Linked DNA regions of Homo sapiens. The protein of the gene in region 4 purifies or fractionates together with the protein of the main gene of each other region. This does not show direct contact. Each region holds a gene or a part of one and is shown on either strand. Other genes may lie near its edges. The genes, in order: TMEM131L, DNAJB12, POM121C, SLC9A4, TAF1B, THEM6 and UGGT2.

Region 1 (4,232 bases), on a different chromosome or scaffold from region 4:
ACTGAATATCCCAGACAGCTTCTGAATTCTGACATCTATTATCAAAACAAATTGTATTATACAAATAAACCAGAAATTAAGAATTGTATAAAATAACTTTTGAGCCCATAAATCAAATAATCATTTAGGCCTTGACATTTCCATCTCTGAGCACACCTACTAAATCTTCAACTAACGCTCTAACAAATGAGAGTATATACTACTAGACTCAATCACCTATAATTTACTTTCCTTTTAGTCTGGGTTGGCTTCCAACACTAGCCAGTAAGAGATAGAAACTATAATTGAGCAAAAATGCAAATACATATACATAGATATACACCAGTGCTTCTCAACCAGGGCAGTTTTGCTCCCCAGGGACATCTAGCAATGTCTGGAAACATTTTTAGTTGTCAAAATCAGGAGGGGGTGGGGGAGAGGGGGAAGCAGCAGTGAGTGCCACTGGCATCTAGTGGGTAGAGGCAAGGGATGCTAACTGCTCAACATCTCACAGTGCACAGGACAGCCCCCACAACAAAGAACTCTGTAGCCCAAAATGTCACCAGTGCCACTGTTGAACAACTCTGATATACAAAAACATAATTTTTTTAAAATAAATACATCGCGTTAAATGTCGTTCTTGCAGTAGGAATACGACGGATTTCTATTTTGTTCTTTTTATATTTCTGTATCTTCCAAACCTTCAAAAACACATGTATATTATTTAAAATCGGGGAAAAAATCCATTTGGGAATAAATTTTTAGGAGAAGGAAAAACTATCTGCTCCTCATCCTGATGGGGCCCTTTCTCAAAAGACCTGTCTCATTCAGGCTGCTGGCCTTCAAGGAGGGTCCAGGAAAATTCTCCTCTAAAATCACCTCTCTGCCTTGAAGCTGTTATTCATTAGCCCTGATCAAAATGAATATTCTAAATATCTCAAAACCAGCACTCTGAATGTTTCACATAGGAGGGAGAAAACTGAAATGTAAAACTGGACAGCCTCTCCGGTAAAGTTATAGCTAGACATCCTGTTTTTCTAAACAGCCGCAAGACACAACACAGAATTAAGTGCTGCCACCACCGTGGGAAGTAATGAACATCTTAAAAAGTACTGCACACAAGCTAAATATTTCCTTATAATTCAAGCCACTCCCACCCAAAAAATGCATTTTGGATCACTACCGTTACTGGTGAAAGGCAGTCAACAACATTATATTTAAATGTGCACACTTCACAGTCAATGGGAATTTCTTGTAAAAGTTAAAAGCTTTGCAGTACTGTATCTGTTGCAGCAATAAACCCTCTATGATGCTACAGATTCCCAATAAAACGTCAGTAATTATTTTTCTACACGCAATCATCATATCATCATACAGAGAAAAAAACCAGAAATTCAAGTTCTTAAGTGGGTGTATTTTAACAGGAATTAAGGGCACTTGGAGAAAATCCAAGATGACAATCCTTGAGAGTCACATCTCCATCCCAAAGCTACTTAACGCTAATGGCAAATACCACTCTAACATTTATGAAATCAATACTCCTGTTGTCCTCAACCTCTTAGCCACTTGCCATCCACACAGCACCAGCTCACTTAGGGAACAGTGTGCACCCAGGACACCCACGGCCGAACAGACCGCTGGCCGCTTCCCTGCTGAGGTGGCCTGGGTTCCCACCTTCTGAACTTGGGGCCGGCCTGCCTCAGGCCCTGTCACATGGCGTGGGAGGAGCCGGGAAGGCCACCGTTGCCAGGTGTTCAGGCTCGGCCCCTAACGTTTATTTGCCTTGCAAAGTGGCCCGAACGCCTGTGCCGCTTGGACAGGGGGTGGGGAGGACCGGGGGCCTCCCCGCCTCTCCTCCCTCGTACACCCACAGCCGCCCTGTCACCTGGTCGTCCTCACCTGAGTGGGCAGCAGGAGTTCCCCTTCTTCTGCCTGCCACAGCTCCACCACGTTCGGCAACGGCTCAATCGCTGCAGGAACACCAAAAAATACACCACGTTTTTAATGCACGCTAAAGAAACGCTTCCTGTTTCCCCTACCGTCCCTCCGTGCCCCCCGCCTCACCAAAACACGTCTCTTTTTCCTCCTGGGAACAGAGGCCATCCCAGGGGCGAGCCAAGGATAAAAATACAATGGGTGGGGTGTGAGCCGGCGGCCCCTCGGACGCGAAGGCGACAGCGTGCAGGCAGGCTCGGGGTGCTCGTGCTGGGGGTGGGGGGACGAAGTGGGAGTGAAGACACCCCACGAGGCACTCCGGGCTCCGCAGCCCGAGCATCTGGAGTGTGGACCCTGGGCGGCCAGGCTCGGGGGAACAAAGCTGCAGGAAGCCGGGCCGCTGCGGGGCACCCGCGCGCGCCACACAAAGCGGGGGCTGCGCCCGGGGCGCAGGGGCCCGCGCACAAAGGCTCCAGGGCGCGAGCGGCTAGCGGTCCCCAAGCCCCGCGACTGCCCCGCTCTCCAGCTGTACGGGGCAGAGAGGCGCGGGACGGGACGCTGTGGTCAGAAAATGTTATCAGCGGAGAATCGCAACAGCTTTCCTTCCTCCTCCTGCCCCTTTCCCTTTCCTCCCCTCGCCCTCTTATAGATTTCAGCAGTTCCCTAAAAGAAAGAGCGGGGGCGGGGTGGAGAGGCAGAGCGAGCCCAGCGGCGCAAGGCTGACCTTGTCCCTGAGCCCCTCCCGGGCGACAGCAGGGCAGCAGGACCTGGAAGACGCCCAGCAGGAGGTTCACGGCCGCCGCGGTGCGGCAGTAGCAGCCGGGCTGCGGGCGTCGGAGCCCCGCCATGCTGCTGCTCGCGCTCCTCTCCGTTGCTCGCCGCGCTCGCCGCTAGCTCGCTGGCGCCCCAGCTGCCTCGCCCCGGGCCCGCCCCCGTGCCGCCCCGCCCCGCCCCGCCCCGCCCCGCCCCGCCCCGCGCCGCACCACCCCCGCCGCTGCCGCAGCTGCTGCAGCTCCAGACCCGGGCGCGCCGCTTGCTCTGAGCGCGTGTGCGCCGCAGATAGGGAGGGACGGAACGCGGCGGGGTGCGGGGGAAAGTGGACAATGCGAACCCGCGGGTGCCCCGCCCCGGCGCGGAGCACATGGCCGCGGGCCCGCCCCGCAGCGCGCACTCTGCGGGGCCCGGGCGCTTTCCTCGGCTGGGACGGGGTCGCTTAGAGCTGTCCGCGGGGACTAGCGGCCCACTTTTGCCAAGTGCATTTTCATGAACTTTTGGGTGGTTGCCGCTTTGTCGAGGCGCTTGGGCCACGGTCGAGAGATTACCCTCGAGGGAAGAGGTGGCGGTGGAGGTGGGAACGAGGAGTCGCCAAGCGAGAGGCCTTGGACACAGGATATTAGTGGAAATAATGCAGTGGTTGTCAGGAAACGCGAGTGCAGCCACATGGCCACTGCCAGTTATGCAGCGAGGATATCCGGTGGCTGCAAAGTCTGTAATTTAGAATAAAAAGAGCTCTCCCAAAACCCGAGAGGCAGACCTCAGCGCCGCGTGGCGGTAGTGCGCCCGGCACCCTCTGTGGACACTGTCCAGGTCCTGACAGGTGGGGAAGACTCTTCCTAGGGGATTTATAGCTTCAAAGACCCTGCAAATACTCCCTTTTGGAATCATATTGCAAAATTCAGCCAGCCTCTCCTGAAATATGGTTGGGGTCGAGGATGTGGTTAGTTGCCTGTTTCTAACATTAGTAGGATAATGGAAGTAATACGTGGAAATACATTTCCTAGTTCCAGGTTTTGATGCCTATAACTAACAAGTCCAAAATCTGGCATCTCTTTAAGTTAACATCCTGCCTTTACCAGCGATGTCGCAAACAAGGGCTTATTCAGAAATCAATTTGCATAACCTAGAAGTATGGGCAATCTTATGATTTTTTAAAGTTAACTTACTGCTTCCACTGTAGCTTGTATGAAATTCAGAGAATATGAACAATATAGTATGAAGAGGGGAAGTGATGGGACACACCTGTTTACCTTAATCCTCTGTTTAATTGCTCCTTGTGCCTTACAAGCCAGACTATAGAAAACCAGTGCTTGCATAGCAGACACAATCCTGAGAAGGACAAAATGAAATCTAGATCCTCTTTCCTAAAGACGTAATACAGTACTGTGAACACAGTCTCACACACTGTCTGCATTTAACTCCAAACAAGGTTAAATAGTCTAATTGCTTGGCCAGACTTAACATTTAAGTAGATTAGCATAAACGTAAGTTGTTGATGTGAAAAAAAAAAAGGGACACTTTGCATTTTCCAACTTGAATAC
Region 2 (3,500 bases), on a different chromosome or scaffold from region 4:
ATCCAGATGCCTGTTTTCCCAGCTGGTCAGCTTGTCAGAGGCTTTAGGATTTTACTACCCAGGGCGCTGGGGCCCAGGCCTGACTGAGGTTTCGTGCCTGGAATAAATGGACACAGGGACCTGCTGCCAGAGACTTGGGCCCTTCCTCATTTAATCTGCAGGAACCACAGGCTTGTTTTTGCTTGCTTTTGTTTTTTTGAGATGGAGTCTTGCTCTGTTGCCCAGGCTGGAGTGCAGTGGCACAATCTCAGTTCACTGCAACCTCTGCCTCCCGGGTTCAAGCGATTCTGTGCCTCAGCCTCCCGAGTAGCTGGGATTACAGGCGCCTGCCACCACGCCGGCTAATTTTTGTATTTTTAGTAGAGACGGGGTTTCACCATGCTGGCCAGGCTGGTCTCAAACTCCTGACCTCAGGCGATCTGCCCGCCTCAGCCTCCCAGAGTGCTGGGATTACAGGTGTGAGCCACCATGCCTGGTGGGCTTGGTTGTTTTTGTTTTTGTTTTTCTGAGACAGAGTCTCATTCTATTGCCCAGGCTGGAGTGCAATGGCATGATTTCGGCTCATTGCAACCTCCGCCTCCCAGATTCAAGCCATCCTGCTGCCTCAGCCTCCCTAGTAGCTGGGATTACAAGCGCCCACCACCATGTTCGGCTAATTTTTGTATTTTAGTAGAGACGGGGTTTCACCATGTTGGCCAGGCTGGTCTTGAACTCCTGACCTTGTGATTCGCCCGCCTCGGCCTCCCAAAGTGTTGGGATTACAGGCGTGAGCCACAGCGCCCAGCCGGGCTTGGTTTTCAATAGCCATGATGCTGCCGAGGGTGATAGTTAATGTCCTGTATAGACTCCAGACATTGAAGAGGACATTTGGCATGGCCAACCACTTGCATTAGAAAAATGTGAAAAATAGCAAGTTGTGAGCACAGCAGATACTTCTTTTGGTCTCCTACCATCTGTGTCCCCCTTGGGCAAACTCATTTCCCCCATTCCTCTTTACAGCTAAGCAAAGGCCTCCAGGAAGGCTTCCTGACTGATCCCACCTGAAACAGAGGGTCCTGCTAAGCGGGGTCCCCTTTGCAGGGTACTTTTCCCAGCTTGGCACTCAACATGCCAAGTCTGTTAAACTCACTACTTTGAGATCTTAAAAATCTGAAGGGTTGACTGGGCACAGTGGCTCATGCCTGTAATCCCAGCACTTTGGGAGGCCAAGGCAGGCGGATCACTTGAGGTCAGGAGTTCGAAACCAGCCTGGCCAACATGGTGAAACCTCATCTCTATTAAAAATACAATTAGCCGGCGTGGTGGTGTGCACCTGTAATTCCAGCTACTTAGGAGGCTGAGGCGGGAGAATCGCTTGAAACCGGGAGGCAGAGGTTGCAGTGAGCTGAGATCATGCCATTGCACTCCAGCCTGGGCAACAGAGTGAGACTCCGTCTCAAAAAAGAAAAAAAAAAAAAACCAATGGTAAAAATAGGGAGTAGTGCAGTGGACTGAATATTTTACTTATTCAAAATGTGGTGCAATGCAAACATATTTGCAGATTTGAATGAGTTCAGTAGAAAAAAATGGATTCATAAGTTGGATTCATAAAAGCAAAAAGCAGAGTAAAACCAAATACACTGAAAGAAATAGCAATTAAAGTAGTATTAAATGAACTCTAGCAAGGCACGGTGGCTCATGCCTGTAATCCCAGCACTTTGGGAACCCGAGGTGGGCAGATCACTTGAGGTCAGGAGTTCGAGACCAGCCTGGCCAACATGGTGAAACCCCATCTCTACTAAAAATACAAAAATTAGGCCGGGCACGGTGGCTCACACCTGTAATCCCAGCACTTCGGGAGGCCGAGATGGGTGGATTGCTTGAGGTCAGGAGTTCAAGACCAGTCTGGCCAACGTGTTGATATCCCATCTCTACTAAAATACAAAAATTAGCTGGGCATGGTGCTGGGCGCCTGTAATCCCAGCTACTAGGGAGGCTGAGGCGGGAGAATTGCTTGAACCCAGGAGGCGGAGGTTGCAGTGAGCTAAGATCATGCCACTGCACTCCAGCCTGGGCAACAGAGCAAGACTCCGTGTCAAAAAAAAAAAAATTAGCCAGGCGTGGTGGCACGTGCCTGTAGTACCAGCTACTCAGGAGGCTGAGGCATGAGAATCACTTGAACCTGGGAGGTAGAGGTTGTAGTGAGCTGAGATCGCACCACTGCACTCCAGCCTGGGCAACAGAGTGAGACTCTATCTCAAATAAACAAACAAATAAAAAAAAATAACTCTAAATAAAGTACTATAGGGTTTATTAATAAAACCAAGTGTGCTTTTGGAAGACTATCAGAATATCAGAATTCTGCCTAAATTTATTAAGAAAAGAGATATATGTATAAGTATACTATCTGAAAAATAAAGCAATTACTACAGATTTATCCATGAATTATGTAGAATTTTATGTCAATTTTTATTAACAAAATTAATTTTGTTCATGTAAAACGAAAAAGACCTCTATCCTGCCTACTTTTTTTTTTTTTTTTTTTTTGAGACAGATCCTTGCTCTGTCGCCCAGGCTGGAGTGCAGTGGCACAATCTTGCTAATCTCCACCTCCTGGGTTCAAGCAATTCTCATGCCTCAGCCTCTCAAGTCTCTCGAGTAGCTGGGATTACAGGCGCCCACCACTATCTCCAGCTAAATGTCTTTTGGGGTTTTTTTTTTTGTATTTTTAGTAGAGATGGAGTTTCACCATGTTGGCCGGGCTGGTCACAAACTCCTGATCTCAGGTGATCCGCCCGCCTCAGCCTCCCAAAGTGCTGGGATTACAGGCGTGAGCCACTGTGCCCGGATTTTTTTTTTTTTTTTTTTTTTGAGACAGGGTCTCACTCTGTCACCCAGGCTGGACTGCAGTGGCACCATCTTGGCTCACTGCAACCTCTGCCTCCCTAGTAGCTGGAATTACAGGCGCCCGCCACCACATCTGGCTAATTTTTTAATTTTTAGTACAGACGGGATTTCACCACATTGGCCAGGCTGGTCTCAAACTCCTGACCTCAGGTGATCTGCCTGCCTCAGCCTCCCAAAATGCTGGGATTACAGGTGTGAACCACCACGTCCGGCCTGTCCTGCCTACTCTTAAGGACTATGGCTTTCAAGAGAGCAGATGACTGTCCCCCCAGCACCCACAGGCCTAATCAGGGCAGGAGCTGGTGGCTTTGCTGGGAGGGGAAGTGAGTGGGAAGCAGCGGGCCGCTCGGCGAGGCACGCAGCCTGCTTGAGCAGGAGCTCTGAATGGTTTCCTTGCCTTGCACAGCCCTGATTGAGTCCCTCAACCAGAAACCACAGACTGCCGGTGACCAACCCCCACCCACAGACACAACCCATGCCACCCACAGGAAAGCAGGTGGGACCGATGCCCCCTCGGCCAACGGTGAAGCTGGAGGAGAGAGCACCAAAGGCTACACTGCAGAACAGGTTGCAGCTGTGAAAAGGTAGATGGGTGGGCAGGGGCTGGAGCCTGG
Region 3 (3,500 bases), on a different chromosome or scaffold from region 4:
GAGTCTCACTCTGTTGTCCAGGCTGGAGGGCAGTGGCATGAGGTCGGCTCACTTGACCTCCGCCTTCCAGGGTCGAGCAGTTCTCCTGCCTCAGCCTCCTAAGTAGCTGGGATTATAGGCACACGCCACCACACCTGGTTAAATTTTTTGTATTTTTAGTAGAGATGGGGTTTTGCCATGTTGGTCAGGCTGGTCTCAAACTCCTGATCGCAGGTGATCCACCTGCCTTGGCTTCCCAAAGTGCTGGGATTACAAGAGTGAGCCACGGTGGCGCTCAGCTAGCTTTTTTTTTTTTTTTTTTGAGACAGAGTCTCACTATGTTGCCCAGGCTGGAGTGCAGTGGCGCTATCTCTGCTCACTGCAGCCTGTGCCTCCTGGGTTCCTGAGATTCTCCTGCCTCAGCGTCCCGAGTAGCTGGGATTACAGGCGTGCACCACCATGCCCAGCTAATTTTTATATTTTTAGTAGAGACAGGATTTCACCATGTTGGCCAGGATGGTCTCGAACTCAGGTGATCTGCCTGCCTCGGACTCTCAAAGTGCTGGGATTACAGGCGTGAGCCTCCATGCCCATCCTAGATACTATTTTTTACCTGTCAAATTGGTAAAAGCCCAGAGCTACAATAACCAAATCTGCTGGTGAGGCCAGGGAGAAATGGTCCCTTTCATTCAATACTGAGGGGAATGCTGAGTGGTACATGCCCTGTAGGGGGATTTAACAATACCCAGCAAAATCACATGCGCATTTAACCCTTGACCGGAATCTGACTTCTAGAAATTTTTCCAGAGGCAAAACTGCCAAGGGTGAAAGGACATATGAACAAATGTATTCTTTGCAGCATTATTTGTGATAGCAGAAGACTGAAACAACCCAACGTTTGTCAATAGAGGACTAGAGTACCTATGCAGTTGTAAGACCAAAGATGAGTTTCTGTGTACTGCTATGGAATGACGTCAACTGTCTATTATGTGAAAAAGCAAGGTTCAAATCTATATATACTGTCTACTACCTTAAATGTTAGAAGGTGGCAGTTTTCAGATACACTGATACGCATACCGTTTAAAAAAGAACAACAAAGGATAATCAAAAAATAATAAAAATGGAGAGGAAGGAAAAATGTAGAGTGGAAAGGGATGGAAATTGAATTTTTGAGTGTATCTTGTTTTAGCGTATTTTTTTCAAACAACAAGTATTTTATGTAATTTAAAATAGAACTATTTCAAAAAGGAAAACATAGAAATCCCTGTAACTTTCAAACATACTGAACAAACGAACCTCACTGTATATAAAGTTGGTGTACCCAAAGGACAATTAACATTACTTTAAAACATGATATATTGATTACATGTCCCTAGGATTCACAGAGGGATATAAAGACCAAATGAATCACAATTCTTAAACTGACTTCAGCAGTCTTAATAATGACAGTGTTAATAATGACACTGATATTGCTATTTTGAAATTGCATGGCCAGGCATGGTGGCTCACACCTGTAATCCCAGCACTTTGGGAGGCCAAGGTGGGTGGATCACCTGAGGTCATGAGTTCCAGGCCAGCCTGGCCAACATGTTGAAACCTTGTGTCAAACTAAAAATACAAAAATTAGCTGGGCGTGGTGGCCAGAGCCTGTAATCCCAGCTACTTGGGAGGCTGAGGCAGGAGAATCGCTTGAATTCAGGAAGCAGAGATTGCAGTGAGCCAAGGTCGCACCACTGCGCTCCAGCGTGGGGAACAGAGTAAGACTCCGTCTCAAAAAAAAAAAAAGAAATTGCATGTACTAGGATCAAAGTAATTATAAACCAACATTTTTGGTGTAATACATAAAAATATAAAATCAAATAGATTACATAAAAAATCCTGCCACCATAAATTTGAATTTGGAATATTATGAATTAATTCTTTACATTCCTCTTTCTAGAGGATCTGTCTATCTTATCTCTCCTAAAACTTAGACTGTAGTCTCTACAGTTCTAACTGGAAGAAACCAAAGCTTTTTGAAGAAACAACCAACTTCAGTATAGGCTAAAAATGGACTTTGGGAAGGTGGGCAAAAAGCAATGAAGCTATCTGTCGAAGACTGCTGGGATCAAAATAAAGGATACAGGAGCCAGTTTGGCTCCCATAGTCCAAAGCTGGAAAAGTTTGCTTATCAAAAATAATAACTAGATATTAAATAATATTAAGGTTAATAATTTAAGAGGGGTAATGGTATTATGGTTATTAATGTTCATTTATATGACTCAGAGCCTTCTGGGCTGATGAACTCATCTCAAAATTTTCCTTGTCTCAAAAACGTTTCTCCTTACATGCTTTACATCTTTTTGTCTGGCTGCTGTATACTGGATACCCACTTACTGACAGCCACTGTAATAGGTGCTTTTTAAATATTACCCTCAATCATTGCAACAGCACTTCAGAGATAAGAAAAAGAGATGTTATGTGATTGTCTGCCCAAGACCTTATAGCTACTAGATGTCAGAGCCAAGCATTTTTTTCCTTTTCTTTGAGACACAGTCTCGCTCTGTTGCACAGGCTAGTCTTGAACTCCTGGGCTCAAGAGGTTCTCCCACCTTGATCTCCCAAAGTGATGGGATTACAGGCATGAGCCATCCCGCCCAGCCTCAGAGCCAAGATTTGAATCTAAGTCTGTCCAGCAGCAAAGCCTGCTCTGTTCCTTATACTATGCAATAATCCCCTTTCCAAAAAATCATGACCACTTGTTTAAAAACCCTGCGCTCAATTCTAAATGCCTATAAATCTCTTTTATGACCCAATACAAGCTGGACTCAGTCTACCTTTCGAATCACCCTCTGTCCGTTTATCTACATCACAGCTCTGTCTCGAATCAGCTCGCACACATGCACTGCTTTACATTCCGGGCTTTCTACTCCGTTCTGCTGGCCTATATTGATCACTCAATGATCTGTATTTTCTATTAGTTAGAGACAATCCTAATGTCCAACAGATAGAAGGTGATTAGTAAACTTTTGCTAACCAATTACTTTATTTAAAAAAATTTCTTTAAAGATTCTTTTGTACAGACAAGGTCTCACTATATTGCCCAGGCTGGTTTTGAACTCCTGGGCTCAAGCAATCCTCCCGCTTTGGCCTTCCAAAGTGCTGGGATTACATGGCTAAGCTACCATGTCTGGCCCTAATCAATGAATGAACGCTGGGAATTCATGCCCCCCACATTACAAGAGCTGTACTTGTACCTGTGAGATGCCTCGAGTGGAGCTGTAGGAACTGGTAATGGCATTGCGGCTGGAGCTAGGGATGCCACTTGTGTAAGCGCCTGTCAAGGAGCTCATGGAAGAGCTTCGGGATCTCTTATTCAAGTGGTCATCTGAGCTCTGAGAATTGAGGCCTCTCTTCAGAGACCCAGGCCTAATAAAAGAGAAGACAGTTAGATGCTTTATTGAAGGCAACATTCTTTTACGATTTCATCCACGGTCATGACATCTTTCTTAATAACATGAAGGGAAGAGAATAATGCTTTT
Region 4 (3,982 bases):
CATGGTCATTTCCACATATTTCATGGGTTCTCAGAAAATGTACCTTGATGGAATGAGGAATAAAAGAATGAATCATAATAATGATTATTAATTTTATTCTGATTCATGTTTTATAACATAATCTTTAAAAACTCATATGCATTTCTTAAGTGCTGAAATTATAAATCATCATCATCATTATTATTTTGGCCCTAGTAAACAAGCCCTTATACATAAAACTACCAGCCCAGTAATTGGCACATAGTATATATTCAATAAATATGGCCTTTTTATCTCCTCACTCCTCATGTCCATATGGAATATAAAAATAATCTAAATTCTTGAAGACTAGTAAATATGAAATTGTACTCGAATAAGCGTGTTCTGATATCCTACTCTTTTTTTCTAAAGTATGTTAAATTACATCATGAAAATCAAGAACATTTAAACCAACAGTTCTATGAATAATCGTATTTTCACAGTGTTCTTCGCTCCTAGACAGAATGAATCTGGGTGCATACAATGCCTCTACAAAACAAGCTAGGTTTTACACAAATATAAAACCAAGACAAAATGCAGCCTTTCTGCGTTTAGATGTTTACTGATAAACAGAGCAACTAGCTAGTCAGTGACAGGACGAGTTTCCTGGTACTCAGATTGACTTGAGCCATTTCTGTGAAGAGGAAGCCAGGTTGTGGAATGGGGAGCAGGGAACACAGAATCTCTAGCATATTGTTTTAAAAGGAAAACTCAAGTACCAAGTAAGATCACCTTGAACACAATCAGTGTCTATATGATTTCACAAAAGATGTTAGACTGTTCTGAACTGAGAATGTTATCCATTTGGAAAGCCATTTTTACTTGTATACCTCTTAAAAATATAGTAAGATCCTTTGTGTAACTTATTCACTAAGCAAATTGCACAAGACTTCTTCAAACTAACATTCCTATTTAATATTCACACTTTACTAGCTCAAAATGAATAGCAACTATAAAGGAGAGTCTAAAGGGGACACCTATACCAGTGTCCCCACACCCACAGGGAGGGAGCTAAGTGAATAGCCAGAGCACACAGAAGGTAACTGCCAGACCTCAAGGCTCAACCCACATTACACACCCATCCTAGAGAAAACATACACATATAAATAAATGAGAATTAAAATGTTTCATTGATTCTATCTCAATAAGGCAATCTACATACTCAAATAGCATAAAGTTTATAGCTGAGGCAAAGGAGGCATTGTGCTTAGCATTTGAGATAATTATATTAATTTTCCACTTTAGAATAAGCTGGTTTTAAAGAGATAAGGAGGAGCAGTTAGGGATTAAACAGTCACAGAGTATAGCCACCTCTTTGGTTTTTGACACAAAGATCCCTTGATTGGAATTTAATCTATTAACTTGGATTCACTTTATTTCACAAAGGAAATTAGAGGTGCCTCACTGGCCCCACTTGGTAGGTATAAACTAATATTTTACTGACAGATATAATCTTATATGCCCCGACATCCCATCACTGAGTAATACAAGTTGCCTATGGTTTTCTTGTTTTTTGCTTTCTGTCAATTTGCAAGAAGCACACGCTACTTTTAAAGAATAAACAATGGGGTGATTGATGAAGCCCACAATTACACAGCCAAGAATATTTTACAGAAGAAACATTATGTGTTTCCTGAAATTTCCACCTTGCATCATGCCCAGGTCTACGTGCTTTATTCTCTATATTTTTAAAGCATAGAATTTGAGAGTTTTGCATGTCAACAATGTCACATGGTTGTCACCCTGAAATGAGAAGAAACCAACACAGCCCAGTACCCAGAAGTATGCTCTCAAATTTCAAAGAGCAATCTCAAAGTATTAAATAGCTTAGTAAAATGCAGTTATGACTTTCCCTTGACTGAAGGGAAGAGAATTTTTAATGTAATAGCAGTAACAGTTAAAATCCTCTTAGCCCGTTATCTATAAGGCATTTTCACATTCACTATCTTATGTAAAAAGATAACTCACCAAACCAGGTGTTTAAGGACTTACCTATTTTTGCAAGGGATGCTAGAAGTATCCAGAGAGTGACCTCATAAGGAATTTGCACATAGTCATAATCCAGTTCAAAAACAGATATCCCTTCCTCTGGCTCTGAGCTGGCAGCAGCAAACCAAGCGTTAGATGCATACTGAGCAGTGGAATTTGCAGATTCATTCAAATCAGAAGATGCTTCAGAACACTCAAGAGCCACTAGCAGTAGCAAACAATTCCAAGGACTGTAAGTCACGAACATCTGCAGAGCCATTCCTGTGGGCTTCTCCTACCTACACCCCTGTGTGGATGTGTGCCACACATCTGAAGTCGGGGAGGCTTCTAGAGAGTGACTGCATCCACCTGGGTCAAAAGTAATATAGGTACAGTCTGTGGGTCCTCCCAAGAAGATTCCGAGTGTGTTATTGAGCTCTGTATGTAGACACTTTCTAATCTGGTTTAAATCGTTTGTGTTCAGGCAACTCAGCTTCCAACTCAAATGCAGTTATTCAATAGACTTGTTAAAGTCCATGGAGCTACCTGGAGGACCTCCATCCAATCATGGCTTGAGCAATTTATGAAAGAAATAAAAATCTCTTCACTTAAAGGCATTTCCTCATTTCACTGCATACTGGCTTTGTCTTGTGGGTGAAAATTTAAAAGGATACTGTAGTGCTCATTCCACAGATCACTGGAGTCCTTCTAATGAGGAAAGGAAACCTTCCCTGTCTATCAGATCCCAAGAAGGAGCTACCTGATCTGCGCTTGTTCCTTCTCTCCTCCCCCTGTCCTCTCATTTGTTTTGAATGACCACGGCTTCAGGTAGCTCTGGAACTACACTTAATTATTTGCTTTGATTTGACTTTTGTAATGAAATCCTTTCTCTGAGGGTTCTCTGGAGGTCACACTGCTGACACCTAGTGGGCACCTGCAATACAACACCCTTGACACTTTCAGTTATGAACGTTAAGGTGACCATGAAATTATCTAAACCAGGACACTTTGGGGAATGAATAATAATGATAATTATGCAAAGCTATAGGCACAAACCAGAATTGTCCAGCAAACTGTCTTATATGGTCTCTATACATGAGGAAGAAGGAGGATAAGAAGGAGGTGGTAACAACAAGGATGGTAGCAAACACTGAAACTTTTGCATGTTACCAGACTCCATGAGCAGTCATTCATAGAAGGAATGAAGTTCCAGATCTCTATGAACTTTACACTATAATTTTTAAAAAACAGGAAGCCAAAGAACAAGTTCCATAAATACACCTAAATACCTGGATTTGTAAAACTCCATGGCACATCCAGATTTTCCATTTAAAAAACATTTGTTGTTGTTAAAAAGAAGCAGCATCATAGAATGTTGATGAAAGAATTTTGAGATAATTTTTATGAGCCTACTTCTCGCTCTTCTACTTGTTGCCAGGTGACCTTGGTGAAGTTAATTACCTTTCAGAAATTCCTTATCTGAAACAGAGAGGAAAATATCTGCCTCATTGAGTAGCTAGGAACATTAAATGAGATAAAGCAAGTAAAGAATTTGGCATGTAGTTGGCACTTAAATGTTAGTTTTTATTTTAAATTACATTTCTTATACTTTTAGGATAAGATACAACACTTTTGCAATGATTACTGATACTCAGTAAAAAATGAGAATAATACATCATCCATATACTACCCCAACATCTCTTTTACATCAAACTGCAAGATGCTTTGTGTTTTGTTTTTTCTTAGTTCATATTAGTGAGTGCAGGGGATTTCCCCCCAGCCAACACACACACACACACACACACACACACACACACACACACACACACACTCAGCTAACATCACTGGGAAATTGAGAAAGGAATGGTTGAGAAGGGCTAACACCTAGATGCAAATTCATAGTGAGGCAATAGAATTAAAAGTTCACATATGAATATTTTTTCTTTTTCCTTCAGTTTGACTCCAGAATAGATTAGATTCAGTCACTGAAATGAGA
Region 5 (3,500 bases), about 93 Mb from region 4:
GAGTCCCCATTATCATCAGCCTGGTTTCAAACTTGGGGATTTGGTCCTAGCTACCTAGTCACAAAAATAAAAACCATCAGTTAGACTTTACCTAAGATCCTTCTCAACAATGGTTAATTATATGTACTCACTGGATTAATGAAATACTTTGCCTTTCAAAGCACACTCATGTTGAGGTCATTTTAAGGGAAAATAATTTTCCCAATTTTAAAAAGGTGTGTTCAAAATTCAACACAAGAAATGGATTTCTAGAAGTTGAATATCATATTTAACTCACCTAACCTAACAATTCCACGGTTGAATTATTTCAGAAAATAAGCATTTTTTCTATAAAAGCACCAGAAATAATATTCACCCACAATGAATACAGACATAGGATAGAAGAACGTATGCCAGTAGATAAAATCTGGCATTTTCTCTAGAACCTACTTAAAATTCCATTCCATGTCCTGACATCATGAAGGTGAAAGATGTGAATAAAGAATGTTAAGTACATATGAAGAAAGAACTTACCAGTATTGTTTTTTTTTTTAAGCCCCCGGTTGAGGGCTTTTATTTGGGTATTAGGAATAAGATCAGTGTTTGTAACTTCCTGATATCTCTGCAGGAAAGAGAAAAAGACCATTAAAAAAGATCGTTTTACATCCCCCTAAGCATTTTTCCAGGTATTTTCTGGAAAGTATAATAAACCAAATTGTGAGTGCCAGGACCAAGGATGGTAAAATCTTGGGAAAATTATAAACATTTAACATTCTAGTTAATGTTGATGTTGTTTTTTCATTCAAAATTTCTCAGTAACTAAAACAGTGCCTGGAATACAGTAACCATAAAGTGTTTGTTAAATGAATAACTTTTATTTTAAATCACTTTTTAACTTTTACAAACCAAGCCAAACTAAAAGTTACATCTACTCACTTTTTTCTCCACACAAAATACACTTTGGTATGAAAACAGTTTTATGTATTTTTTGTAACTGGTAATGCCTAAACTACAGACAGATTAGTTTTGGCCTACTTTTCCATGTCTTTGAATAATACTCTAAAACTGCTTTCATTTCTGAAATTATAAAAGTACGTATTACATTTTATTTTTAATCAAACTTAGAGAACTTTAGAATGACTAAAATGGTTAGTATAATTCATATCAGAGTCTTCAATCTTAACTGCTCTCAAGGGCAAATATCAAAGATTCTGGCTCTCCCACAACTAAAAATAAAGTGTTGAGTCTTTTTTTTTAAATGGGGCCACACTTTATTCCATAAAGTAGAATAAATGTTCCCATTATTGAGTCTTTTTCTTTTTTTTTTTGAGAGGGAGTTTCGCTCTCGTCGCCCAGGCTGGAGTGCAATGGTGCGATCTCTGCTCACTTCAACCTTTGCCTCCCAGGTTCAAGCAATTCTCCAGCCTCAGCCTCCTGAGCAGCTGGGATTAAAGGCATGCGCCATCACGCCTGGCTAATTTTGTATTTTTAGTAGAGACGAGGTTTCTCCACGTTGGTCAGGCTGGTCTCAAACTCCCAACCTCAGGTGATCTGCCCACCTCGGTCTCCCAAAGTGCTGGGATTACAGGCATGAGCCACCGTGCCCAGCCCCCATTATTGAGTCTTAATGCCAGAAGAAAGGTGAGGATTTTTAACCAACAGAGGACATTACTGTTTTTCTAAATTTAGAGATTTGGAATGAAATTTATCTTTAACCCTCCATAAGAATAAAAGAAATGTCTCTACCAACAGGATTTTTGGAACGTAGTCTCTCTAATCACAGAAACCATATTCAAAGCAATTTTGGTATACTGGGTTGGCCACACTGAAAACATAAGACACGTCAAAATAAATACAAAAGCCATTATCTAGCAAAGACAGTAAAACTTGCAAAGGGTAGCCAGGAAAAAAAGACTTAAAATCTGTACTAGACAAAACGTGAAAGAGCAAAAAACCTGAAAAAATGAAACATCCAAAACTAGAGCTATAATTAATTAAATTACCAAATGGCCATTATGGAATATTTACAGTCTATAAAAAATGTCTGCAAATGTTTAGATAAAAGTATTTTTCCAAGTTGTTACGGCAGAAGATTGAACAGCACTCACACATCCCTTTCTCCATTTCACACACAGGAAAAAAGAGACAAATGTAGAGATTACTGGTGATTTTAGCTTTCATCTTCACAATTTCCAAATTTTCTATAGTAAACATGCATTGCTCTTATGATCATAAAAATCTCTTACATTCACACAAGTCTAGCCTACACCTTTTTAAATATCCGTGAAACTCTTGCAAAAATATCTATTGTCTAAATTGAACAGATTTATGACCTTACATTTTTTTTTCCTGGATAAAATATACTAGGATAACATTTTGGTTCCTTTATCAATCTGGAAGGCCTTTCCCAGATTGCAGAGCGTGTCTGGAGCTTGACAGTTACATGCCAAGGAAGAGGGGGCAATAAAAGGGGCAGAAAAATAGGGCAAGTTGCACCATGACTTCCATTCTTCACAGCTGTAACTGTCTCACCTGCCATTCCCCACCCACTGTATTTCAACATCACCATCGCCACACTGCTCAGCTCCAGGGAGCCCCTACCACATTATATTCTCACAGTCCATGTGAAGAACATGCCTGGACCGCCATAAAGCCAAGAATAACTACTGAAGTTGTGCAACACGTAACTTTTTTTTCCTTTAAGCCTGTCGTCTGAAAGGAAGGCACTGAGCTAGGTTCTTGGTCTTTATAAAGATGTTGTCCACCTTCATGAACTCTACATTCTTGACAAATTACTCCACAGGAGTTGACAGTCTTCCAAATGTGGAGCTAGGGAGAAGTATTAGGATCTTTCAAACTAAAAAATGACTGCAGCAGATTTGATCAAACAGAATCAAACGGAAACAGTATCAAAATCAAAAATAGAAAAGCAATTAGTTAATGTAGTTCAATTCCTATAAAAATAGTATGCTGACTTCATCTACTAATGGCAAATACTCCATTAGACATAATCTTTCTTCACTGGGTTTACACCTGCACTATAGTACAAAAGCAACAGTGAGTAAAACTGCTAGCTCCTTACTACACAATGAGGGTGAGGACCAAACTGCACATCTGTCAGGTGCACAATCTGACACACACAGACACACACACAAAATATATCTCCATGAAACCACCACTATAATCAAGATAATAAATATCTCCATCACCCCAACAATTTCATCAAGTGAGCACATATCTTTTTAATATTCTGTATGACTAAACAGGAAGCAGAGATAAGCATTCCAGCTGCAGACTCAAGAACACTGCCTCAAGGAAAAGCACTTGTGTGACACACCTGCAAGCTCAATTCACCAGTTTTGTCAAGGGAAAATGTTTTTCCTTTTACTCATTTAATATATTTTGTCCAGGTTTTTCATTGTTTAGGGGACAAAGGTAAGTCTGGTCTCTGTTAGTCCATCTTAGCCAGAAGCAGAAGTCTACACAGTTACTTTTAATGTCCCAAATTTGCCTTTCTTAAG
Region 6 (3,500 bases), on a different chromosome or scaffold from region 4:
TAGATGGGGCTGCAAGCCTCGAGAGCTGGGAACCAGGAGGGCCGGAGCAGGAAGGGCTGGCTCCCCAGGGGGCTTTGGACAGCACCTTCTTGGCCTCAGTCCTATGCCCCATGGGATGAGGACAAGCCCTGCCCTGCCAGCCTGATCCCTAAGTTCACGGGAGCCCAACAAACCTGGATAGCCCCCCATGCCAGACACCCATCTTGGGAATGTGCCCCAGCTTCCCTGGTCCCACCTCCGCCCCTGCATGGATGGTGGTGGTGGTAGCTCAGAAACAAGGCCCTCCCCAGCACGCTTGCAATGAAAACCCTTTAATGTTGGGCTTTCTTTAAATAAAACAGAAAGGTTGCAGCTTTCCCATGGTGGCTGTAAGGCAAGAACAGCAGTGAGGGCGGGCGTGTTCTATCGGGCAGTGCTGCAGCCCTTGACTCTGGCTCAAGGTGGGCTTCCTGGAGGCAGCGGCAAGGAGGCAGTTCTGGATGTGCAGGCACAGATGTAGGGGAACAGGCAAGCGGGCACAGGGCCCTGAGCTGACAAGCAGTGACCCCTGCACCCAGCTAGATGGGGCACCCCCTCTCTGGGAGCTGAGGGCATCAGCTGGAGCCTCAGGCTGGGACCAGCCCCAACTTTGCCTTGGTGACTCTGGGCCATTCCAGGCCTCAGTTTCCCCAGCTGTAAGGTGAGGCATTAGGCAGGAGGGGGTGGCCCCAGCCAGTGTCCTAGTAGCCTGGTGTCTCCATTAGGGAGACCTGAGAAGCTGCCAGGAGAGGCTCTGCTAGCGCAAGGCAGGGCCGGCCCAGCAGCTGACAAGGAACATGCTGAATATAGAGGACAGAGGAGTTAAGAAGACGCCTGCCGGCCAGGCCAGAGAGGGGCAGCTCTAAGGGGGTACAGCGGCCTGTGGTGCTGTAGGCCCAGAAAGGGTGGGGATCAGCCCAAGTCACAGAGCATGGCCCTGGTGGGCGGCGAGGGGTGCGAGTGGACAAGGACACCCCTGCAGAGTCCCACCCCCACTCTATTCCCTCCAACAAGGGAACGCCCAGCAGGAAGCCTGCTGTCTTTCCAGGAGCCCCTGTGCCACCTAGTCTGACCCCTCTCAGCCACAAGGCTACCCTCCCGTCCAGCCTGACTGGAGGTAGAGGAGGAGGAGGAGGCAAGGCCGACTGCAGTGGGGAGCCCGGGTGCCCCGTCCTCTGTCAGCAAATGCCTCCCTTCCATCTGCCTCTAGCCCCGGCCTCTGACCACCCAGGCTCTGCCCCAGGCCTGCAACCACCTCAGCGGAAGCCAGAGGGGCTGCCTGGCAGATGCCGCTCTGACCCTTCAGGAGTGCCCACTGCACCTGAATCAGGCCCAGGCCCTGGAGAGCCCAGGCCTGTACCCAGGATGCTCTGGTCTGGCCCTGCCTCGGCCCTTGCAGTGGTCCGAGCCAGGATCTAGGCTCGGGAGGCACTTGTGGGTCCCTCTGCTCCAGGCACCATCCTCCCCTACCTAGGCCCACATGAGTGGCCTCATCGTAGGGCCAGGCAGGACTCTCCTTTGCCCATCCATCCCCACCTTGAGGGCAGAGCTGGGTCAGGATGCCAATGCCACTCCTCCTTCTGCCTAGCGTGGAGCCCAGCACAGAGGGGTATCAATAACTGGGGGGGCCCAGTGGGTGGAGCAGGGTGGGCCAGGCTGGTCAGGAGGCTACTCCAGCTGGAACAGAGTATGGCTGAGACTGCCCATCTGTGGGCAGCCCCCAGGCCCAGGATGGTGGCCAGGGCAGACGGTGTGAAGGTGGCGGTCACTGGTCCTTGGTGACATCACTGAGCCCACTCTCCATGCGGAGCAGCTGGCTGCTGGCCTCGTTGTAGGAGATCCAGTGCTGCAGATCAGCGGGCAGCTCAGGGGGCTCCACCTGCAGAGGACAGAAAGGGGACACCCAGCTAAGCTACGGCCTTCCCACCTCTGGGCCGCTGCCCACACTGCTCCCCAGCCCGTGACCTTCCAAGATCCCCTGCCCCGCCGCCTGCCATGCTTTGCCCATGCCTCCCCAGGCTCTGCACACTTGTGCTACCCCTGCATACCCACCTTGACACAGCCCCGCTTGTGCCTGGCCCGTCTCCCCTAGGGGCCATCCCCAGAACCCAGCCAGAAACCCGTGAAGTTGGCAGGTTGGGAAGGGCAGAGAGGAAATCCAGAGGCCTCAGGGTGACAGGGGACAGAGGGGTGGAGGGCCAGCATGGGAGCCCTCCTCCAGGAAAGTACCAGACAGGGCTCACTGAGTTCTCTTCTTTCTCCAGGGCACCCAGAGGATGGCACTTCATCCCCCAGGGCAGCCTGGGCCTGACCACTCCACTATCAACCCTCTCCACACACACAGCCACCATGTGGCAATGGGAGCCAGGCTCCAGGCCACTCCTGAGGGGTCCACAGCCTTGCAGATGGGCATTGGGAGCTCCCAGGATGAGGGGACAGGCCAGGCACAGGCCCACCCCCACTTCAGGGTGAGCAGCACACAGAGGTGCTCAGAGATAAAGCCCAGACCTTCCCTGCAGATGAGTCGTGACCCCCATGGCAAGTCCCAGCAGAGCTGGGCCTGGACTCTCCCCTGGACCACTCCCCTCCCCACCTAGTTTCAACCATGTGACCAACACTCACCCCAGCCCAGCTCTTCCTCTTTGGCCACATCACCGCAGGCCAGCCTCTCAACATGCAAGACCCAACCCTGGCTCAGCCTGCCCAAACTGCAGCCGCGGTCTTTCCACATCATCGACAGAGTCTCTGCTGTTCTGGGTCCCAGCCTTCACCTCCCACAGGGACCTCACCAACCAGCCCATGCCTGATTTTATCACTCCCTCTTTCCCAGAAAAGCAACCCTGGCTCCCCATCTCCTCGGCCTCCGTGCCCGGCTCTCAGCCTTGGTGGCCTTTGCCTCTGGACTCTAGATGCATGAAAGACATAGAGTCCAGCACCTGGGGACAGAGAGAGATCTAGGCCTTTTAGGGGGTTCCTGACTGTAAACCAAAAATAACATCGGAAGGTACCCCCAACCATCTGAATGAACTTCCTCCAATAGGCCAGGGCCCTCCACATTTAACCAGAAAGACTAGCCCAGGCCATGATAGAAGAGGGTGTGGGACAGGCCTGTTATGCCCTCCAGCATTAACAACACAGACCTTAAGTCCGACAAGAAACATTTATGATCTATTCCCTCTGAAGCCTGCAGCCTGGAGGCTTCATCTGCATAATAAAACCTAGGTCTCCACAACCAGTATCTTAACCCAGACATGCCTTTCTACTGATAATAGCTCTTTCAACCAACTGCCAATCAGAAAACTTTTACATCTACCATGACCTGAAAGCCCCCCTTCCAGATGGCATCAATGTGAATCTTACATGTACTGACAGATGTATTGTGCCTCCCTGAGATGTATAAAAGCAAGCTGTGCCCCGACCACCTTGGGCACATGTTGTCAGGACTGGTGAGTCCTTATCCTTGGCAAAGTAAACTTTCTAAA
Region 7 (3,500 bases), on a different chromosome or scaffold from region 4:
TACTCCCTTATTCAGTGTCTGACTACTAGGAAAGCATGTTAAAAAATTAGTAGAAAAATAGTATAACTTCTTATCTATATTTATAGGTTCTTTTTCTGTTTTTTTTTTTTTTTCCTACTGTCAAATGAGCATAGGAGGAGACACTGTTGGTGGTGGAGGGCAAATGGGCTGTTACATAAGGTTAAGCACCTGAGGTCTGAATGCCTGGGTTCAAATCTCAGCTGTGTTTCTAATTAGCTGTTTCATATCAGGCCTATGCTATAAAGGATGATTCTTGCTCAAAGAAAAGTATGGCCCTTCACCCTATCTCCCAGGAAATATCCCCTACCCTGGCCCTTCACCCTATCTCCCAGGAAATATCCTCTACCCTTGGAATTTCCTGACTAATAAGAATGTCTACGTTTACCTGCAGATCTCGGACCACACTAGATATTGTATGCTAATGATGTTATTTGTAGTGAGGACCTTGGGCCACAAAGCATCAGTTCAACATCTGAAGGGGTTAGAGGTTAAGGTTAGTCATGCAGGCCGTTAGCCAAGTCCACACAGCTGACCCTCAATAAAAACTCTGTACCACAAAGTTTGAATGAGCTTCCCTGGTTGGCAATACTCCACGAGTACCCTCACACACTGTTGCTGGAAGAAATAAGTGCTATCCACTGTAACGGGATTCTACTGGGAGAGGACAACTGTTAACTTTGTGTCTGGTCTCCCCGGACCCTACCCTAAGCATCTCTTCCTTTTGCTGATTTTATTTGTGTCCTTTTGCTATAAAAACTGTAACTGTGAGCACAGCTGTTTTTTGGAGTTATATAAATCCTTATAGTAAGTTATTGAATCTAAAAGTGGTCTCAGGTACCTCTCAACTGTGCAAGCTAGTTACGTAACTTTTGAATCTTGGTTTTCTTATCATGTGGGATTGTTATGAAAAACAATTGAATAACGTCAGTTAAACACTTGGCATCATGCCTAGAAATATTAAGGAATAAAAGCATGCTTGGCTAGTTTTACTTCTGTTTTCCCACTGCTTTTGGTCTAGAAAAAACAAACTCATTTGAAATGCTGTTGAATGAGACACCAAATTGCTGCGGAGACACTAAATTTCACGGAATTTGATTATGCTGTAGGGAGAATAGGAAGAAACAGAGTATACTTTGTAGCAGGAGTATAGGGCTGAGTAAAGGGTAATAGCTGTTGATCACCTGAAATCTTCTAAATATAAAATGCCTCAGATCATGGTGCCCAGCAATCAATACACTACACAGACGAAAGAGCTTTTTTGTTTCAGTACTGTAAAACTATTTTCTACGGTATAGGTATAGTCTTTGTATTTTCTTGATACTACTACTGTTTCTGCCTATCTTTGCAAAAATGACAGAATCCATTTCTTTTAATTGAAAATCTGTATATATTTTCCATTGCCAAATTGTATTTAATTACTCATTATCATGAAAAACTACTAGCCATTCTGATTTTGATTTTACTTAAAAATATACAGTCTTCTGTCCTCTCCTTTGAACATCTCTAAATAAAAATTGTACAGAATTTTTCTTAAGCTACATAAAAATACTAAATACCATTTTTTCAAAAAGCTTATTCTGAAAAGAGAAATATCATATAAACTTACAATGATACAAATAATTTACTATTCAAACATTAACCATTCTACAAAAAAAGCTATGTACTTACTTTAAATGTCGGTGAGAGATAATTTTTTAGCAACCAGAATTTCACTGGTGTTTTGGTGTTACGCAAAACAGAAAGCATCATAATTCTGTATAAAAGAATATTAAACCCAATATACATTAACAGTAACAGGAGCTCATATATATTTTTTAACCTTGAAGTGTTTTTTAAAATTTAATTTTAATTTCTTAAATTTTACTTTAAGTTCTGGGATACATGTGCAGAACATACAGGTTTGTTACATAGGTCTTTTAAAGGCTTTTAAATAATTGAAGGTATGAATTAGAAGGTTTTCACAATGAAATGTGAAGAAATAAACTAAAATATGGTTTATCAAGTATGTAATGTGTAAGGATGAATACATATACATCATGGTAGCTTCACCTGGGCCCAGCTGTCCATGACTGTGTGATTAATATTAAGTCTACAAACCCTGAAGAGCTGAATGATCTATCTATATTGACAAATTCACTGGATGGGTCATTTGGTTTGCTAACCTAAACCTCCAAATGGAAAGGATACAAATGAATCTGAAGTTCCATTTTAACGTATCAGTGCTACAATTCAAATATTTTTGAGTTATTCTCTGTGACCTTTCTATATAAACTGTTTAAAAATAGCCTTTTGTACTTTGCAATATGCATTTCTCCCCTCATTCCCTTCCTTTTTATAAAACAAGGTTTTCTTCACTGGAAAAGGATAATTTACTATAGTAAATTATATATATATAAATATTGTATATATAAAGTACTGTAAATATATATATTGTGAGTATATCTATATATATATATTCTTACCTATCCAAAATGTCTATTTGCTAGCCTTGAAGAAAACCAATATTCCAAATCAAGCCAAACTCATGAAATTTCATATTTATATATACTTACCTCATAATTTTAAGTAAAAAAAAAAAGCAAGGTGTAAAGTAGTATGTTCTTTACTATTTGGGTAAAAGGACTTAAACAACTGAAATAAATAAATAAATATACACATATATATTTACGTGTGTGTGTGTGTATGTATCTCCTTAGCAGGATATAAAAATAATATTATGGGTTTCCTGTGAGAAAAGGAACTGAGTATCAAGGAAACAGAGGTGGGAGTTTTTTTTTTCCCAGTGTATATTCCTTTATTTTTTTTTGAAATTTGAACCATGTAAATATTTCTTTTTCAAAATATAAGGTTAAAAAATATACCTACCTTAAAAAACGTTCATATAAATGACCAGAAGCAACTGAAAAAATGTTTAGGACATCTTTTTCCTTTTTGTTTTCTTTATGCAAGCTTACTGTGAAACTTGGAATAAAAAAGTAATTGACATTTCTTAAACATACATATGGAAACATTGTATGCCTAAATAGTAAATATAAGCAATCAATATAGAAATGTATTTCAAAATAGTTAAGCTATAAACACTCTATAATATTTACAAACTAATATTAAAATATTTGACAATATCATTTGAAGCTTTATGAGTTTTTTTTTAAATTTGTAATGTGGAATATAACTATATTGTCTTTAGGTGAATGGGCTGGTATTTTTGAATTTTTGTGAGTTGCCAAAGGTTGTTTTCAGAACAAAGAATGAATTACAGCTTGACATGGCCATATCTAGTGTACTGAAAGTTTAAACAGGTCAATGAGGGAAGGAACAGAATGCTTAAGTGTGGAACTACGGCACAGCAAGAATTTATGTGGTAACAGGGTAGGTGTGTGAGTGCTGCTGATGGGGCTCATCCAGGCTAAAATATTTTTAAACCATCTACAATTTGGAGCTCCTCTGACCAAGCAGATTTTCTCCACCACGCAGGGTAT

The links.
Region 1: the proteins of SLC9A4 (region 4) and TMEM131L purify together in Homo sapiens (affinity purification with mass spectrometry; one large-scale study listed by BioGRID and IntAct). This does not show direct contact.
Region 2: the proteins of SLC9A4 (region 4) and DNAJB12 purify together in Homo sapiens (affinity purification with mass spectrometry; one large-scale study listed by BioGRID and IntAct). This does not show direct contact.
Region 3: the proteins of SLC9A4 (region 4) and POM121C purify together in Homo sapiens (affinity purification with mass spectrometry; one large-scale study listed by BioGRID and IntAct). This does not show direct contact.
Region 5: the proteins of SLC9A4 (region 4) and TAF1B purify together in Homo sapiens (affinity purification with mass spectrometry; one large-scale study listed by BioGRID and IntAct). This does not show direct contact.
Region 6: the proteins of SLC9A4 (region 4) and THEM6 purify together in Homo sapiens (affinity purification with mass spectrometry; one large-scale study listed by BioGRID and IntAct). This does not show direct contact.
Region 7: the proteins of SLC9A4 (region 4) and UGGT2 purify together in Homo sapiens (affinity purification with mass spectrometry; one large-scale study listed by BioGRID and IntAct). This does not show direct contact.

The regions. Positions count from the first base shown.
Region 1 is NC_000004.12:153,464,928-153,469,159, reverse strand, and holds the start of TMEM131L (transmembrane protein 131-like isoform 1 precursor), read right to left. Parts: upstream 2,801-4,232; 5' UTR 2,763-2,800; coding exon 2,639-2,762; exon of another isoform or gene 2,255-2,638; coding exon of another isoform or gene 2,044-2,254; intron 1,950-2,043; coding exon 1,879-1,949; intron 1-1,878.
Region 2 is NC_000010.11:72,344,920-72,348,419, reverse strand, and holds part of DNAJB12 (dnaJ homolog subfamily B member 12), read left to right. Parts: intron 1-3,292; coding exon 3,293-3,470; intron 3,471-3,500. UniProt on the Homo sapiens protein: Acts as a co-chaperone with HSPA8/Hsc70; required to promote protein folding and trafficking, prevent aggregation of client proteins, and promote unfolded proteins to endoplasmic reticulum-associated degradation (ERAD) pathway.
Region 3 is NC_000007.14:75,434,300-75,437,799, forward strand, and holds part of POM121C (nuclear envelope pore membrane protein POM 121C), read right to left. Parts: intron 3,388-3,500; coding exon 3,216-3,387; intron 1-3,215. UniProt on the Homo sapiens protein: Essential component of the nuclear pore complex (NPC). The repeat-containing domain may be involved in anchoring components of the pore complex to the pore membrane. When overexpressed in cells induces the formation of cytoplasmic annulate lamellae (AL).
Region 4 is NC_000002.12:102,472,044-102,476,025, reverse strand, and holds the start of SLC9A4 (sodium/hydrogen exchanger 4 precursor), read right to left. Parts: upstream 2,801-3,982; 5' UTR 2,267-2,800; coding exon 2,011-2,266; intron 1-2,010. UniProt on the Homo sapiens protein: Electroneutral antiporter that exchanges sodium for protons or ammonium ions at the basolateral membrane of epithelia to regulate cell volume and intracellular pH upon hypertonic conditions.
Region 5 is NC_000002.12:9,846,474-9,849,973, reverse strand, and holds part of TAF1B (TATA box-binding protein-associated factor RNA polymerase I subunit B), read right to left. Parts: intron 602-3,500; coding exon 514-601; intron 1-513. UniProt on the Homo sapiens protein: Component of RNA polymerase I core factor complex that acts as a GTF2B/TFIIB-like factor and plays a key role in multiple steps during transcription initiation such as pre-initiation complex (PIC) assembly and postpolymerase recruitment events in polymerase I (Pol I) transcription.
Region 6 is NC_000008.11:142,733,723-142,737,222, reverse strand, and holds the end of THEM6 (protein THEM6), read right to left. Parts: intron 1,898-3,500; coding exon 1,784-1,897; 3' UTR 296-1,783; downstream 1-295.
Region 7 is NC_000013.11:95,857,902-95,861,401, forward strand, and holds part of UGGT2 (UDP-glucose:glycoprotein glucosyltransferase 2 precursor), read right to left. Parts: intron 2,983-3,500; coding exon 2,887-2,982; intron 1,775-2,886; coding exon 1,690-1,774; intron 1-1,689. UniProt on the Homo sapiens protein: Recognizes glycoproteins with minor folding defects. Reglucosylates single N-glycans near the misfolded part of the protein, thus providing quality control for protein folding in the endoplasmic reticulum.